Homo sapiens: one gene and its partner. The protein of the gene in region 2 interacts with the protein of the main gene of each other region in a biochemical or structural test. Each region holds a gene or a part of one and is shown on either strand. Other genes may lie near its edges.

Region 1 (7,539 bases), on a different chromosome or scaffold from region 2:
TTAATTTGGTGTTTTTAGTAGAGACGGGGTTTCACCATGTTGGTCAGGCTGGTCTCAAACTCCAGACCTCAGGTGATCTGCCCACCTCAGCCTCCCAAAGTGCTGGGATTACAGGCATGAGCCACCATGCCCGGCCCCTGCATGCTTTCTAACCGAGTACACCCCGTCTACAATCAGGGACCTGAGTCACCACACACTCAGCCCCACAGGACCTCAAGGTTAAAGGAGAGGAACTGAGAAGCGGGAAGGGGGCGGGTCTCCTGTACAGCCTGAGGCAGGGGAGATGGGCGCAGGGATACGAGGTTCTCCACGTTCTCCATCCATCGCTCCCGCAAGCTGGGAAGGAGTCCAGGGCAGAGCCTGGGCCTGGGGTCGGGGAGGTCTCCCGAAATGTCCACACCCCTTCCCCACCACCCACACCCTCGCCCACGAGGCCTGAGCCTCTGGCCGCACCAAGCCATCCACGGGCCTGTAGTAGGCAGCCATGGTGAAGATGATCATGTACAGGCAGTAGACCAGGAAGTTGAAGTAGAAGATGCGCTTGACGAATCTGTCCCACTTGTCCTGCAGGAGTCGGTTCAGCGGCTCCACCAAGAGCATGTCGTGGCGATTCTAGGGGGTGGGGAGAGAAGTGAGGTTCCCTCCTGCAGCAGGAACTCCTCGCACGCCCACACCAGCCCGTGGTGCCCCTCACAGCCATGTGGCCCGCACAGTCCTCAGCCCACGGAGCAGGTGAGATGGGAGGTCTGAGCCAGCCGGCAGCCATAGCCTGGGGCTGGTCCCAGCACTGCCGCGGCTCACGGAGGGACCTGCCCTCTTGGCCTCAGTGTCCCCAGAGGTGCAGTGAATGGGGTGAAACTGGACAAGCTCTTAAGTGCTCACTTAATGGCCCACCGCACTGCCCGTTGTGTCTAATAACTCCCTCCCGAGAGCCCACAGTAATGGGAAGTAGTTGGCTTAGGCAGAGCCTGGGCATGAGGGGCTCAGGGCAGGCAGGAAAGAGCCTCTGGGTCCTCACTTCTCACGTTTCCAGCCCTGGGTCAGGCAGGGCGGCAGGGAGGCAGGGAACTAGGAGGCCCTTCCTGCCCCAGGAGGGCCCAGTGCCTCATGCCATCATTACAAGTATGCTTTGGGGCAAATGTCTCATATCCAGAGACTTTGATAAAGTTCAAATAGGCCGGGTGTAGTGGCTCACGCCTGTAATCCCAGCACTCTGGGAGGCCGAGGCAGGTGGATCACTTGAAGTCTGGAGTTCAAGACCAGCTTGGCCAACGTGGTGAAACTCCTTCTCTACAAAAATACAAAAATTAGCCAGGCATGGTGGTGGGTGCCTGTAATCCCAGCTACTTGGGAGGCTGAGGTGGGAGAACTGCTTGAACCCCAGGAAGCAGAAGTTGCAGTGAGCTGAGATCACGCCATTGCACTCCAACCTGGGTGACAGAGCAAGACTCTGTCTCAAAATATAAAATAAAATAAAATAAAAATAAGTTCAAGTATCCCTGAGACTGATGAGCCAAAATCAGATCATCCCAGCCTCCCTCAGGCCATCGAGTCCAACCCCCACCCCAAACTTAAGCTCCCTCAAAGAGGTTCCTGATCAGTGTCTTCTTGAATGCCTTTGGGAATGGGAAACTCCTTACTGCCTCAAGAGGCCTATGGAGACTCACTGCCTGTAGGGAATACCTCTTCTTTGGTCTTCTCTACTTTCCACTAGTGGTCCTGGCTCTGCCCTAGGGTCCCCAGGACAAGTCCACACTCCTTGTCCCTGAGAGCCTTTAGAGACATGAAGATGTCAGTGGTGGTCCCAGAGCCTCTCCCCCAGGTCAAATACTGCAGTCCTTGTTGAGGCCACCTCCTATCTGGACCTCTCCTCTGGGAACACTTGTATCCAGCACTCTGAGTTGGAGGCCCAGGTTCAGCATGGCAGCCCAGGGGAGGCAGAGCAGACCAGGCCTTTCCCAGCCCCGGACTCTGCTCCTGTAAACGCAACCTCTGACCTGTGAGATGTCGTGGAAGCCCCTCACTGCTGATGGCACAGACTCTAGCCCCCAAGTCTGCCTTAGGAGCTCAGAGCATCACCTTAGAAAGAAGGGACAGATAAGGTGGCCTTTCCAAACAGCGTGGCAGGATGGATTACTCACTACGTAACACTAAGACATTCATTTGGAGCCAAAATATTTAAGTAAGATGCCTACTTCACACCTACACAAAAATAAGTTCTTGGCCTGGCGCAGTGGTTCACACCTGTGATCCCAGCACTTTGGGAAGCCAAGGAGGGCGGATCACCTGAGGTCAAGAGTTCGAGACCACCCTGACCAACATGGAGAAATCCTGTCTCTATTAAATACAAAAAATTAGCAGGGCCTGGTGGCGCATGCCTGTAATCCCAGCTACTTCGGATTCGAGGAGAATCGCTTGAACCCGGGAGATAGAGGTTGCAGTGAGCCGGGATGGCACCATTTCACTCCAGCCTGGGTAACAAGAGCAAAACTTCGTCTCAAAAAAAAAAAGAAAAATCTACACGCCCTGCCATCAAGTGAAAAAAAAAAAAGGTTGTTGTACATTGTGTATAGTCTGATCTCATTTATGTAAACAAAATGAAACTGTGCATTTTTAAATAGTATAAAAGGAGGGTCCTTTTGTCCATGTCCCTCTGAAACGTTTCTGTTTTTATGGGATGATAATCACGTATGGTTGCTATGCTTAGGGAAAATTCAGTGGGCATGAGTGGGGAACGTGAGGCTGCAGGGCCTGGGCCCGGGCGCAGCAGGCTTTCCCTCCTGAGAAGCCAGCTGGAGCTGGACCAGGGGCTGGGATTGGGGCTTGGGTGCAGAGGCCCTGAGGCCCTCCCTGGCTGTGCCCCAGCCACTCACAGGGGTCTCGCTGCTGCTGTAGGCGATCACCTCCAGCACCGAGTTCTTCTCGCAGGTGTCGATGCAGGACAGGTCGTACAGCGAGGAGTGCACGGGCCCGTAGGCCCACTCGGTGAACTTCCTGGACAGGTGCCTGCACTCGGGCTCCTGGATCTCCCGCTGGAGAATATAGGCCAAGACCTGCCCCCGGGGAGCAAGAGCCCGTCAGAGGCCAGCCCCAGGCTCAGCCTCAGACAGTACCTCAACAACCAGCTCTGCTTCCCAGCCCAGCTGGTGGCCCCACCTAAGCCCCAGGCGAGTCCCCACCCACTCCTGACCACCACTGAGATCAACCAGCCGGCCGGGCACGGGTGGCTCATGCCTGTAATCCCAGCACTTTGGGAGGCTGAGGCGGGTGGATCACCTGAGGTCAGGATTTTGAGACCAGCCTGGCCAACATGGCAAAATCCTGTTTTTACTGAAAATACAAAAAAAAAATTAGCCGGGCATGGTGGCGTGTTCCTGTAATCCCGGCTACTTGAGAGGCCGAGACAGGAGAATCACTTGAACCTGATAGGCAGAGGTTGCAGTGAGCCGAGATTGTGCCACTGCTCTCCAGCCTGGGCAACAAGAGCGAAACCTCATCTAAAAAAAAAAAAAAAAACAAAACACACAAACGTCAACCAGCCAGCTGCCTCAGATACTACCTGCACCATATCAGGCCCACAATCCCCTCACGGCGAGGCCCCAGCTCTACCATCTCACCATGAAGGACAGCGGTGGTCCATTCTCGATAACCTCAAGCCAGAAAGAAAGAAAGAGAATGCAAGAAATGAGAGCCAGATGGGGTGGCTCATGCCTGTAATCCCAGCTACTTGGGAGGCTGAGGTGGAAGGATCACTTGAGGCCAAGAGCTGGAGGCCTGTCACCAGGAGCCACCAGCTGGAGCTGGGAGCTGGAGCCATCAGCCTTGTTACCTAAAGCTCCTGCCTGCCATGCTCCTGCCTGCCATGGAAAAACACCAACAGCTTTTTTCTTTTTCCTTTTTTTTTTTTTTTGAGACAGAGTCTTGCTCTGTCACACAGGCTAGAGTGCGGTGGCAAAATCTTGGCTCACTGCCACCTCCGCCTCCCAAGTTCAAGTGATGTTTGTGCCTCAGCCTCCTGAGTAGCTGGAATTGTAGGCACCTGCCACCATGCCTGGCTAATTTTTGTATATTTAGTAGAGGTTTCACCAGGTTGGTCAGGCTGGTCTCGAACTCCTAACCTCAGGTGATCCACCCACGTCGGCCTCCCAAAATGCTGGGATTACAAGAGTGAGTCACCGTGCCCAGCCCAACAGCTATTCTTCTGTTCCACCCTAGGCAGTCCCTCCTCCATTGCCCAGCACCCTACCCCACCCCATGTCTTGTTGCTGATACTCAGAGCTGGAAATTCAAAATGGCACGTTGGCCATTGCAGGGTTCTGCCCTGTGGCTCCCAATTTCTCAGACTTATTCTAACAGCCCTACAGGCTGGTATGACAGAATCAGAGTCCCGCACACACAGATAGCGACGCCAGGCTCCCGCAGTGAGTCAGGCAGTCCTCTCCCATGCCATCAGCCCCGCACCGCACCAGCCTGAGCCGAAGCCCCCTCTTACCCCGATCTTCCCGGTCCCAGCTGCCAGAGCCAGCGGCGTCATTCCCTTCTTGTTGGTGAGCTCCTCCAGCTTCAGCGTCGGGTGCAGTTTGGCCCCCAGCATCAGAATCTCATTGTACATGCTCGTCACAAACTTCGTGTTGTCGGCCGTGTTGTCGGCCACCTCCACCAGGGCGTGCAGCACCGTGTTGCCCACCGAGTCCCTGGCGCTGATGTCGGCCGTCTGCCAGGAGTTCTGCAGCAGGAACTTCACGATGCCCAGCTGGTTGGTGCACGCGGCCAGGGACAGGGGCAGTTCACCTGCATGAACACAGGGCCCAGGTGGGCCTCAGGAGTGAGATCCAGCTGGCCCCTGAACCACCGGCCTCCAAACTCCCTCTGTCTCTGCCCAAACCTCCCCTTAGCAAAAGCCAAAAAGATCAGGGTCTGCCACACTGTCTCCCTACCGAAGTAGAATCCAGGCCGCCCTTTGGTTTTCTTAAAGAAGTCCCCATGGGCCGCAGCCTGGACGTCTGCTCCGTTCTCCACCAGGAGGGTCACCAGGGCCATGTTGCGTCTCTCGATGGCGATGTGCAGTGCTGTCTGGCCTACAGAGGACGCGCACGGTTGGCTTCGTGGTCACGGTCCTGTGGGGCTGCCGGGACAGGTGCTGGGGAAGGGCTCTGGGCAGGCAGCAGCTGCTGCAGGAGGAACTGGGCAGAAAGTGCCTGGAGGACCCCCCCACTGCAGGAGGCCAGGCCAGGGTCCCCCAAGGGGTCCCAGCAAGGTCCTGAGACAGGAGACCCCTGGGAACAGGAAATAACGGGTTGGAAGCCAGAGGAGTCAAAATTGCCCCGGGGGCAAGGAACAGCAGCAGAGAGAAAGGCCAGAGGCTGTGACTTCCAGGGACAGGGACCATCCAGTCAGCAGGGGGAGGCAGGGACTTCTCAGGGTCAAGAGAGGAGACATCAGATCGGGGAGGCAGAGACCCCCAGGACCAGGAGAAATCAAGCCAGCAGATGGGAGAGGCAGGGACCCCCTAGGATTAGGAGCCACCAACGCAGTGGCTGGGACAGGGAGTAAGGATCCCAGAGAAGCAAGGAGGCCCAGGGACAACCATGCCCCCCTGCTTCCCGGTGCTGCGGGCTGAGCCATGCCCGGCCCCGCCGCCCTCCTCACCCTTGTAGTAGCTGTCCGTGTAGCTGGCGTTGACAAGCTCCTTCAGGCTGTCCGTTTGCCGCGCGATCTCCAGGAGCAGGGGGATGGTGGTGTTCTGTCCGTCGTGCAGGTTGAGCATGGCTTTCAGCAGACAGGTCTTCCCTGTCTCAGGGTCTGAAAGACATAAGGGAGGGTCAGGGCAGGCCAGGGCTGGGGCCCTCCCCGAGCCCAGCGCTGGGGCCACCTTTGAACTCGTTGTCTGTGAGGTGCTTCTTGCTCTTCTGCAGGAAGAGCAGCAGGCTCTCCAGATCCTGGCAGTTATTCTGAGCAACGGCTTCAAAGATACTCCTGCGATCATAGAGCCTGAGGGTCTTCTCGGTGCTGGCGGCGACAGAGTCCTGGGACAGCAGCCTGTGGGCCAGAAAACACGCTCGTCTCATACCCTGGCCTCCCCTCGGCCCTGAGGCCTTCGGAGCTTGTCAAGGGAACACGACTAAATCCCAAGGCAAACCAAAAAGGGGAAAAATGATATAAAAGCTGCCCCTCAGTCTAGGTGACTGTCCAGAAAAGCAATGTAACAGGGACAGTGGAGGGCATGTGTCCCCATTCTGTCCCCACCCTGTCTATAGACACCATCTAGAAAGTCACCCTCCTACTCCCAGACCACTGGCTTCTCTGCCTGCTCGGGAGCTCGGGAGGCAGGAGCCTGGTGGGGACGGAGGGAGGTGGAGGCAGGGGTGTAGACAGCCCCTCTAAGGGAAAAGGTGGCCTCACACTCCCCAGAAGTCAGCCAGCCTGTGGCCCTCCCTGCCCTGCCTTGCAGCTCACTGGAGCTGTGCTGTGCTCTCCAAAAGCCTCCTGCCCTTGAGCTTTTAGACTTCAAGTCCAAGTGTCTGTGGCTGGTAGGCATTGCGGGCGTGGACACCTAGACCCAGCACAGACACCAGCCCCCGTGACTGCACATCCCACGAGGTCACATGAGGAAGGACGCTGGACCAGACCACCCCTAAGGCTCTCCAGCCCCCTGGCTTTGTGACATTTAGCCCAGAAGCCAGACCACCCTGTGGCATCTCCATGGCCAGCTGGGCTCCCAGCAGGGAGGGGGGCTCCAGACGCGGACTTACCTGGCACCGGTGGGGCCGTCTCCTGGCCTCTGGATGGTGATAACAGGGCTGACTGTGATGGTCGGGCAGGAGTCCAGCTCACCTTCCTCGTGAGGGCAATCCACCGGGAAAGCCTCCTCCGAGTCACCCTTCCCAAAGAGCCGGGTGCGGCTCTTGGCCGTGGAGAGCTGGGGCTTGGCTGGAGGTGGCCTGGAGTTAGGGTCTCCATCCAGGGGGTCTGGGCAGGTGTCCTTTTGGAGTGGGTCCGCAGCTGCCCCCAAGTCTGTGCTGCTCCATTTCTTCATCCTTGCTGGATCCTCTGTGGCCCAGTGTGCAACCTGCAGCAGCCACCACGCCGGGGTTGACTCCCAAAGTAAGGACTGCTTGTCCTTAGACCCCACCTGCCCTCCTTGCCAAGGGCCCTGTGAAGCAGGGTACCCCAAAACTCCAACTTGCTGCTGCCCCCAGCCCCCTAGAACTGAAGTGTTTCCAGGACTGAACCTCTCACCCCAGAGGCCTCAGAGGTGAGCAGGCCTAGCAGGGCCCAGGCAGTCCTGCGGCCACTGACGTCGGCCTGGGAGGGTGGACAGGCCCCCGGCTCAGAGCCATCTGTGGTTCTGGGTTAGACCCATCCCTCCTCGTCTCTGGGCCTCAGGTGCCTCCTCTGCAGGGTGAGGTTGATAACCACCGCGCTGCCTCCCTCCCCACACAGAACAAGGAAAACGGCCGGGGTGGCTGTCGTGGGCTGAATTCAGGGAGGATCTCGGTGATGAGGATGGCTCAGTCCAGAAGAGCCAAGCAGACTGTG
Region 2 (8,478 bases):
CAGTCAGAAGTCTGGGAAGTCCAAGCTCAAGGTTGCAGCCAATTCCATTTCTAGTGAGGGCTTTCTTCCTGGCTTGCAGAGAGCTGCCTTCTCACTGTGTCCTCACATGGCAGAGAGAAAGCAAACTCTTTGATGACTCTTTTTAAAAATTATTTTTTATTTCTATAGGTTATTGGGGAACAGGTGGTGTTTGGTTACATGATTAAATTCTTTAGAGATGATTTGTGAGATATTGGTGCATCCATCACCCAAGCACTATACGCTGCACCCTATTTGAAGTCTTTTATCTCCTGCCCCCTTCCCACCCTTTCCCCTGAGTCCCCAAAGTCCATTGTGTCATTCTTATGTCTTTGCATCCTCACAGCTTAGCTCTGCTTGTGAGTGAGAACATAAGATGTTTGGTTTTCCATTCCTGAGTTACTCCACTTAGAATAATAGCCTCCAGTCTCATCCAGGTCACTATGAATGCCGTTAATTCATTCCTTTTTATGGCTGAGTAGTATTCCATCATATATATATACATATATATATACACACACATATATATACACATATATACATATATACACACATATATACATATATATACACGTATACATGTATATACACATATATACACATATACATATATATGTGTATATATACGTATATATACATATATACGTGTATATATACGTGTATATATACGTGATATATATATATACATATGTATATATACGTATATATGTGTGTATATATATATATATATCACAGTTTCTTTATCCACTCATTGATTGATGGACATTTGGGTCGGTTCTGTGTTTTTGCAATTGTGAATTGTGCTGCTATATACATACATGTGCAAGTATCTTTTTCGTATAATGACCTCTTTTGCTCTGGGTAGATACCCAGTAGTGGGACAGCTGCATCAAATGGTAGTTCTACTTTTAGTTCTTTAAGGCATCTCCACACTGTTTTCCATAGTGGTTGTACCAGTTTACATTCCCATCAGCAATGTAGAATTGTTCCTTGTTCACTGCATCCACACCAACATCTACTGTTTTTTGATTTTTTGATTATGGTCATTCTTGCAGGAGTAAGGTGGTATCGCATTGTGCTTTTGATTTCAATTTCCCTGTTCATTAGTATGTTGACCATTTTTTCATGTTTGTTGGCCATTTGTATATCTTCTTTTGAGAATTGTCTATCCATGTCCTTATCCCACTTTTTGATGGGATTGTTTGTTTTTTTCGTGTTGATTTGTTTGAGTTCGTTGTAGATTCTGGATATTAGTCCTTTGTCAGATGTATAGATTGTGAAGATTTTTCTCCCACTCTGTGAGTTGTCTGTTTACTCTGCTGTTTTTTTTTTCCTGTGCAAAAGCTCTTTAGTTTAATTAAGTCCCAGAAATGTATCTATCTTTGTTTTTATTGCATTTGTTTTTGGGTTCTTGGTCACGAAATCCTTGCCTAAGCCAATGTCTAGAAGAGTTTTTACAATGTTATCTTCCAGAATTTTTATAGTTTCAGCTCTTAGATTTAAGTCCTTAATCCATCTTGAGTTGATTTTTGTATAAGGTGAGAGATGAGGATCCAGTTTCATTCTCCTACATGTGGCTAGCCAATTATTGCAGCACCATTTGTTGAAAAGGGTGTCCTTTCCAAATAAAATACTTAGGAATATACCTAAACAAGGAGGTGAAAGACCTCTACAAGGAAGACTGCAAAACACTGCTGAAAGAGATCAGAGATGACACAAACAAATGGAAACATGTCCCATGCTCACAGATGGATAGAATTAATATTGTGAAAATGACTATACTGCCAAAAGCAATCTACAAATTCAACACAATTCCCATCAAAATACCACCATCATTCTTCATAAAATTACAAAAAACAATTCTAAAATTCATATGGAACCAAAAAAGAGCCCACATAGCCAAAGCAAGACTAAGCAAAAAGAGCAAATCTGGAGGCATCACATTACCTGATTTCAAACTATACTATAAGACCATAGTCACCAAAACAGCATGGTAGTTGTATAAAAATAGGTATACAGACCAATGGAACAGAATAGAGAACCCAGAAATAAACCCAAATACTTACAGCCAGCTGGTTTGATGATTCTTATAAGGAAACTAATCCTATTGGATCAGGGCTCTACCTTTATGACCTCATTTACTCTTAATTAAGTCCTATCTCCAAATACAGTGACATCGGGAATTAGGGCTTCAACATAAGAATTTACAGTTCACTCTATAGCAGTATCTCACTTCCCTTCTGTATGATATTCTTTCTCCACATTGTTTCTCATTCTTCTGGACCCCTCTCCAGCAAGATATCCTGTAAAAGTTGCAAGATCTTTTCAAGTCTAGACTCAGCTCAGAATTTCACTTCTACACATTCTGTTGAATAAAGTGAGTCACAAGGCAGGCCCAAATTCAAGCAGAGGGGAACAGACTTGACTTCTTGATGGGAAGAGTGGTAAAATCACACTCCAAAAGGACACATGGAATTGGAGGGATAGCTATGGCTGTCTTTGGAAACAGTCTACCAATTTGTCCTTGAACAAATTGTTTAACCACCTGATTTTACTTTCTTTGCCTGTAAAATAGGAAATATAGCATCAACCACTTTGGGATGTTGTAAGTAATAGATTAAGAAAGTGTGTTTAGCACCTCGTACATTGTAGTAGAAACATAACAGAAACAGCAAAAACACATATTGGTTGAGCCCATACTATGTGGCAGCACTATTACAAGCACTTAAATATATTGCTTTATGTAATCTTTGTAACAGCCCAAAGATACACGTTATCTTTGAGATAAGATGAGAAACCCTAGGCACAAAAATGTTAACTTGCACAAGGTTGGTTGCATAGTAACTAGTCTGTCTAAATCTTGAATGTCTTACTGTCTACTTTATCCAAAGGACACTTTTTAGTTTTTTCTCTTTAAACTATATTTGAAAGTTTACAGTTGATGTTGCTCGCTCCTCTACCAAACACTCCTCCTCCCGTGATCCCTATGACTCCCCTCTGTACAATCTTTCCTCCTGTTCTCATTGCTACCTTCCAATCTCCTCTTTCATTTCTTCAACTCTTCTTTCTTGAAGGAACCATCCCATGTGGCAACTCAGTTTCTACCTTTCCAATGATGATTGCCAGTCTTCACTCTCTCCTAAACTCTAGGCTTGCATTTCTAAGTGTTATTAGGGTGTGAGCACATATGACCCAGGTAACGTTTTGAAACGTTTGTGCCTTTCACTTCTTTCTTATTCCATTGGTTGCAATCTTGTCACTTAATACTTGAAATGTTTTTCAAATTTGGATGTTTCTAGCAATCAGCTAATGCCTTTGGCCTGGTTTAGGCCTTCATCATCTCTTGCCTGGTTTATCAAAGTCATTTTTTAACTGAACTTGTTGCTTTCAGTTCCTCTCTGACATGATGGCATTAGGGTAATATTTCCATGTGCTTCAACACACATACCTTCTCACCATTACTATATGTCCCCCCCGCCACCCCCCCCCAGCATCACACTATCTCTGGTGTCACCTTCTCTGTTCATGGCCTTTTTCTTCTTCTCTAGGGGTTCCCCCCTTTGAAGAAACAGCATCTGCTCAACCTCCCCTACAGGCTCCCTTAAAGCTGGTTTCTCCTCCCTCTGTTTGTCTCTTTGCAACTCTCTGGAGGCATCTTTACCTTTACAACTTTGCATTTTCTCTGCTATTCCCATGTAAGTTCCCTGAAACCCTAGTACCATTCACAGCAGGATTTCAAAGGTTGCCTGTTGCGTGAGCATTCTATAGGATCCCAAATTATCTTTCTGTGCAAATATGAATTGTTGTGATATGTCCGTAGAGACGGCACAACCTCATGGCTAAGAATGATAGTTACCAGTTCTAGAGATCCTACTCTAATTGCTCTAGAGTGGGGGCCTGAACACCAGTATTACAAAAAAGACAAAAGAAAAAGAAGGAAAAAAGAAAAAAGAAAGAGAGAAAATCAAAGCTACCTTCATCATGTATGAATTTGAGCAAGTAACACCTTTGTGAGTCCCCAGGCCCCAGTTTCTCATTGGTAAAATGAGGATAACAATTACACAGACCTTGTTGGGCTATGTACAGAATTAAATGAGATTATGTACCTAAAAGGCTTGTGGCACAGTGACACACACACACACACACACACACACACACACACCCAGAGTACTTCGTGGTTATTTCTAGGCTTTACTGCTTGAAAGGCTGAAAAGATGGGTGGATGAGAGGTGCCCTGAGGTTCCTTCCAACTCTCCAAGATTCTGTGATACTCCTCCTTGGGTGCTGAAGACACTTTGGCAATGTTTGGATTTCCAAACGGTTGCTTAGAAAACTAAGGGACCCACGAAGCCCAGGTAAGCCTCAGGGTCTTTCCCAGGAATCGTTTATTTATTTGATCTTAGTTCTGACCTAGAGCCTCCACCTTCTCCATCCAAATCACCACAGTGGTCGAAAAGGGCCTGTGCTTGGGAAATCCTTCCTTTGTTGGCGAATCTTGGACCCAAACCCTGCATTTGGGCATCTGACACCCATAGGCCCATGGTTCAAACCCAGGCGGCTCTTTCCAAGTTCGAAGCAGGGACTCGGTTCTGCGCATCTGGCGGGTGTGCCCAGATTGTAACCTTCGCACTAGGCATCCAAGAACGTGCTTTGGACACACTCGGCGGTGGGAGCGGGTGCTTGGTTTGCATCAGGGATGAGGGGTGGAGTAGCGAAAGCGCCCGGAGCGCGCACTCACTCACACTCCCCAAGCCAGGGCGCGGCCGCTCTGGGCGCGAGGTCCCAAGCCAAGTCTCGCGCTCGGCCAGGAGCCGGGGAGTACCCCAGGTCCCCGGTCTGGGGCCGCCGCTATCCTACCCTGCGGCGCGCACTCCTGACCTGGCCCCGCCCCCCGGCGGCCGCGAGTAGCGGGCGGAGCGCAAGCAGAGAGGCGCTCTGGGCTGTGCGGCACCGCCTCTCCTCGGTGTCTGGGGAGGGACGGAGGGACCGGGCGGGAGAGAGAGAAAGCCTGACCGACCGGCTGGCGAAGAGCTGCATGCAACCGGTGGGAGGCCGGGCCGGCTGGGTCTGGGGCTCGGGCTCAGGCTCGCACCGTTTCTCGGCAGGTCCCTGGCGGTGAGCGCGGACGGCCCGGAGGCGGCGGCTCTGAGCTGGCAGGCGGAGGGCTGTCTCCTGCGCCCGCCTGCCCGGCGCGGTCCGAGGATGCGGGGGGGCGATGCCCGGGGCCAGGGACGCGCTCTGTCACCAGGCGCTGCAGCTGCTGGCCGAGCTCTGTGCCCGTGGGGCCCTGGAGCACGACAGCTGCCAGGATTTCATTTACCACCTGCGGGACCGTGCCAGACCCCGGCTCCGCGACCCAGGTGAGTGCCGCCACCGCCGCCTGGAGGGACCTAAGGGCCCTGGGCTGGGACTTGGGGCCGCACCGGGGCCTGAGGCAGAACAGCGACGCGGACTGGGAGAGGGCGGGGGGCGGCCACCGAGCCAGGAGAGTGATCAAGAACCAGCGCACTGTGGCCTGATGCTGTAACCAGGCGGGGACCCGGGCGGTGGCTACTGCACGGAGGCCGACTCCGGGTCGGCTAGGGCAGGGTTGGAGGGACCACGCCCGCCACCTGCGCTCCCATCGCCAAGGCTCCTGGGGGCGGCTCCCTAGCTCCGAGCTACGCTCTCCACTTCCCGGGCTATCTGCACTCAGAGCGAGGGGAGGCCGCGGCGGCCTCGGAGCCGTGGGAAGGGGGACGAGGCCGAAGGAAACTCTGGGAAGTTGGGAGTTGGGGACGGCCCCGGGTTGGGGCCGAATCCCACCGGGTGCTGCTCATCCTTTCTCCCAAGCGTCTAGTTCCTTTCCTTGGTATGGGGTGAGAAGGGCGGGACGCGATCCGGCGTTGGGCCGGGGACAGGGTGCTTCTGGCCTTGGGCAGACGGGCCTGAACCCGTTCCCGGCGGGTCGCACGGCATGGAGGTGGCCTGGGCCTGGGCGCTAGGCTCGACCAGCGACTACCGCCGGCCACGATGGGGTTCGTAGACTCGTCGGTCCTGGCTTGTGCACCTGTAGTTACTCCTAGTGAAAGTTGCAAAGCTCTTAACTTTGGAAAGTTCATTTATTTTGGCATTTGACCAATTAAGGTTGGAGGAGGGAGTTTTAGTGGAGCCATTTGCTTTTCCTGAGGTCCCTGGGTCTCCCAGGTCGTCTCATCCGTTACTGGCTACTGGAAAATGCATTCCTTCCAATGTTTGCTTGAGATGTTTCTCACCTGGAGAAATAGTTTTCTCGAATATTCTCCCAACCTAAGTACTTACCAAAACAGCATATTGTGGTTGGATTGTTAAAAATGGGATGAGAAAATGGCCTTTCTCTTGATATTGCTATGTATAAATATTGGAAATGAGCTATTGCCTTGCAAATTATGATGTACGAATTGAAAACAATTTATTATATAAAAATCCATTTATCCAAAAGATAAATTAAAGAATTATTTGATTTATAAAGAGTGTCACACTGAGCCAGACTTAAATAGCATATCCTTGATATATTCAAGATGGTCGTGTGGGGTGAAGTCATCTGCTAAAATTTTAAAGTTTATATCAGATTTTCCCTACCAGAGGCTTTTTTTTCCTATTGAAAAAGAAAAAAATATTGTTTTCCATTGCCGGTGGTTATATTAACTAAGTTTATTGAATGATCATTGATATATTACTTCAAAGTGGATAATTGGGTAGAGAAATACTGATCCCAGTGGTTTCCAGGGAGGTTTAATGTCCAGCCTATGTGCATCTCATTGCTGGATGTGATGTGCTGAATAAACCACAGTCCCTTATCTCACAAGCTGGAGTCCCAGGAAGATGTCTTAAGTCGGGGAAGTTCGTCCTTAAGCAGCAGAAGCAAGACAATTATTTTGCATGCTTTGCCCAAAGCAAGTATTAGTATTGAAACATCTCACTTCCTTGCCTGTGACCAGACCACGAGTTCTCCTTGTTATCCCACATAAGCAGTTGTCTTTGGCTTTACAAGAGAAGATGGATGAGGCCTATCTCTGAATCACATCTTTTTGGCCAGTTTTCTGCTTCTACTCCTTTTAATCCGGGAGCTGGATCCTGTGTTCTCAGATTCTCTTCAGCCCCTACACCAGGCAACCCCTGAGAAAGAGTCACTAAGTAGGCTTCTTACAAGAGGAAATCTGATTCCTTGGCGGAGGAATAGCTAGAGATAGGAGTCGACCTTGCTGCTCTGAGTTCCTGATAGCAGTGCTCTGCTTTCTTAAACTAGGACACAAGGGTTTTGAAGTAGCCCCATGCCCCTGTGGCTCTTTGGTTTTTGTTGGAAAGTAGCCAGCTCATGAGGACAGGGGTGGGGGTTTTCGAGTGCAAGGTGAGAGGAAATGAGGCCAAAGATTACATCCAAAGTGCACCCTCTCCTTCAGGACACTTCTCCCTTCATTTCCAAATCTCCCTTCATTTCCCTCCTTCCTTGCCTTGCCGACATTAATTCTTACATCAGATGCATTTGTCTTCATCCCTCTGAAGCAAGAGTGTCTTTAATCTCGGAACCCTAAAAGCTGAGTAGTAGAAAAGCTGCACCACACAACGCCGTGTGAATAATGTCCCTGCTGTTGATAGTGTGAACCAGAACAACCATGCACAGCAGCCCTGAGACATGGGTTCCTAGAGAGAGTCATCTCGGTAAATGGATGACTTCTTTTTCTGGAAAGGAATCCACCTGAATGCCATGTCCCAGCTTTCTCTGTTATTGTCCATTCACGGCCACCCTGTGATAGCTAGGTTTTCTCAAGCTGAACTAAGGACTTTGGTTATAAAAGGAGAAAAAAGATATAATTTCCTGTGGACAGCAAAGTGACCCTGCATCTAGGAAATTTACTCATTTTTTCAGAGGTGTGGAAAGACTAGGGCACAGACCAGCGGGCCTGAGCCATCAGAAAGGTTCTTTTTTGTCCAGGTAGTTATAGTGCCCTGTTGGGGGAGTACCGCACCCAGATTTCCCTGACTTGGTGTTCACAGAGGACTTGATGCAATTGTGGTTTAAAAAAATAAGCCTAAGTCACAGTTGGAACTGAAGTGCCTCACCCAGTCTGTCATCTGTACCAACTTGTGGAAAGGAAAGTGCTGAGTGTGAGCACTTTTGTCCATAGAAAGCAATTAGAATGCTCTGTTGGTTGCCTTTATGGTGTTTTATATGTTAATGATGTGGGACATAAACTTGCAGGCCTCAGAGACTAGCCTTTAAGGCAGAGGGAACAGCAAGCGCAAAGGCCCTGAAGTGGTAGCATTATTGATATGATTCTAGAAATGGTGACTTCAGAGGTGGCTGGAGAGGTGTGAAACAGATGGAGAGTGATAAGACGTGTATGGTCAAGAGTTAGAGAGGGTGGATCATGCAGAGTCTTGTAAACCATTATAAAGACTTTGGTTTTTACTCTGAATGAGATAGGAAGCCATTAGAAG

Evidence for each region.
Region 1: the proteins of SYT9 (region 2) and TRPV1 form a complex in vitro, tested with the Homo sapiens proteins (one study listed by BioGRID).

Annotation. Positions count from the first base shown.
Region 1 is NC_000017.11:3,585,315-3,592,853, forward strand, and holds part of TRPV1 (transient receptor potential cation channel subfamily V member 1), read right to left. Parts: exon of another isoform or gene 7,070-7,539; 5' UTR 7,037-7,069; coding exon 6,753-7,036; intron 6,040-6,752; coding exon 5,873-6,039; intron 5,803-5,872; coding exon 5,650-5,802; intron 5,079-5,649; coding exon 4,938-5,078; intron 4,792-4,937; coding exon 4,493-4,791; intron 3,054-4,492; coding exon 2,874-3,053; intron 613-2,873; coding exon 454-612; intron 1-453.
Region 2 is NC_000011.10:7,246,954-7,255,431, forward strand, and holds the start of SYT9 (synaptotagmin-9), read left to right. Parts: upstream 1-4,950; 5' UTR 4,951-5,233; coding exon 5,234-5,378; intron 5,379-8,478. UniProt on the Homo sapiens protein: May be involved in Ca(2+)-dependent exocytosis of secretory vesicles through Ca(2+) and phospholipid binding to the C2 domain or may serve as Ca(2+) sensors in the process of vesicular trafficking and exocytosis.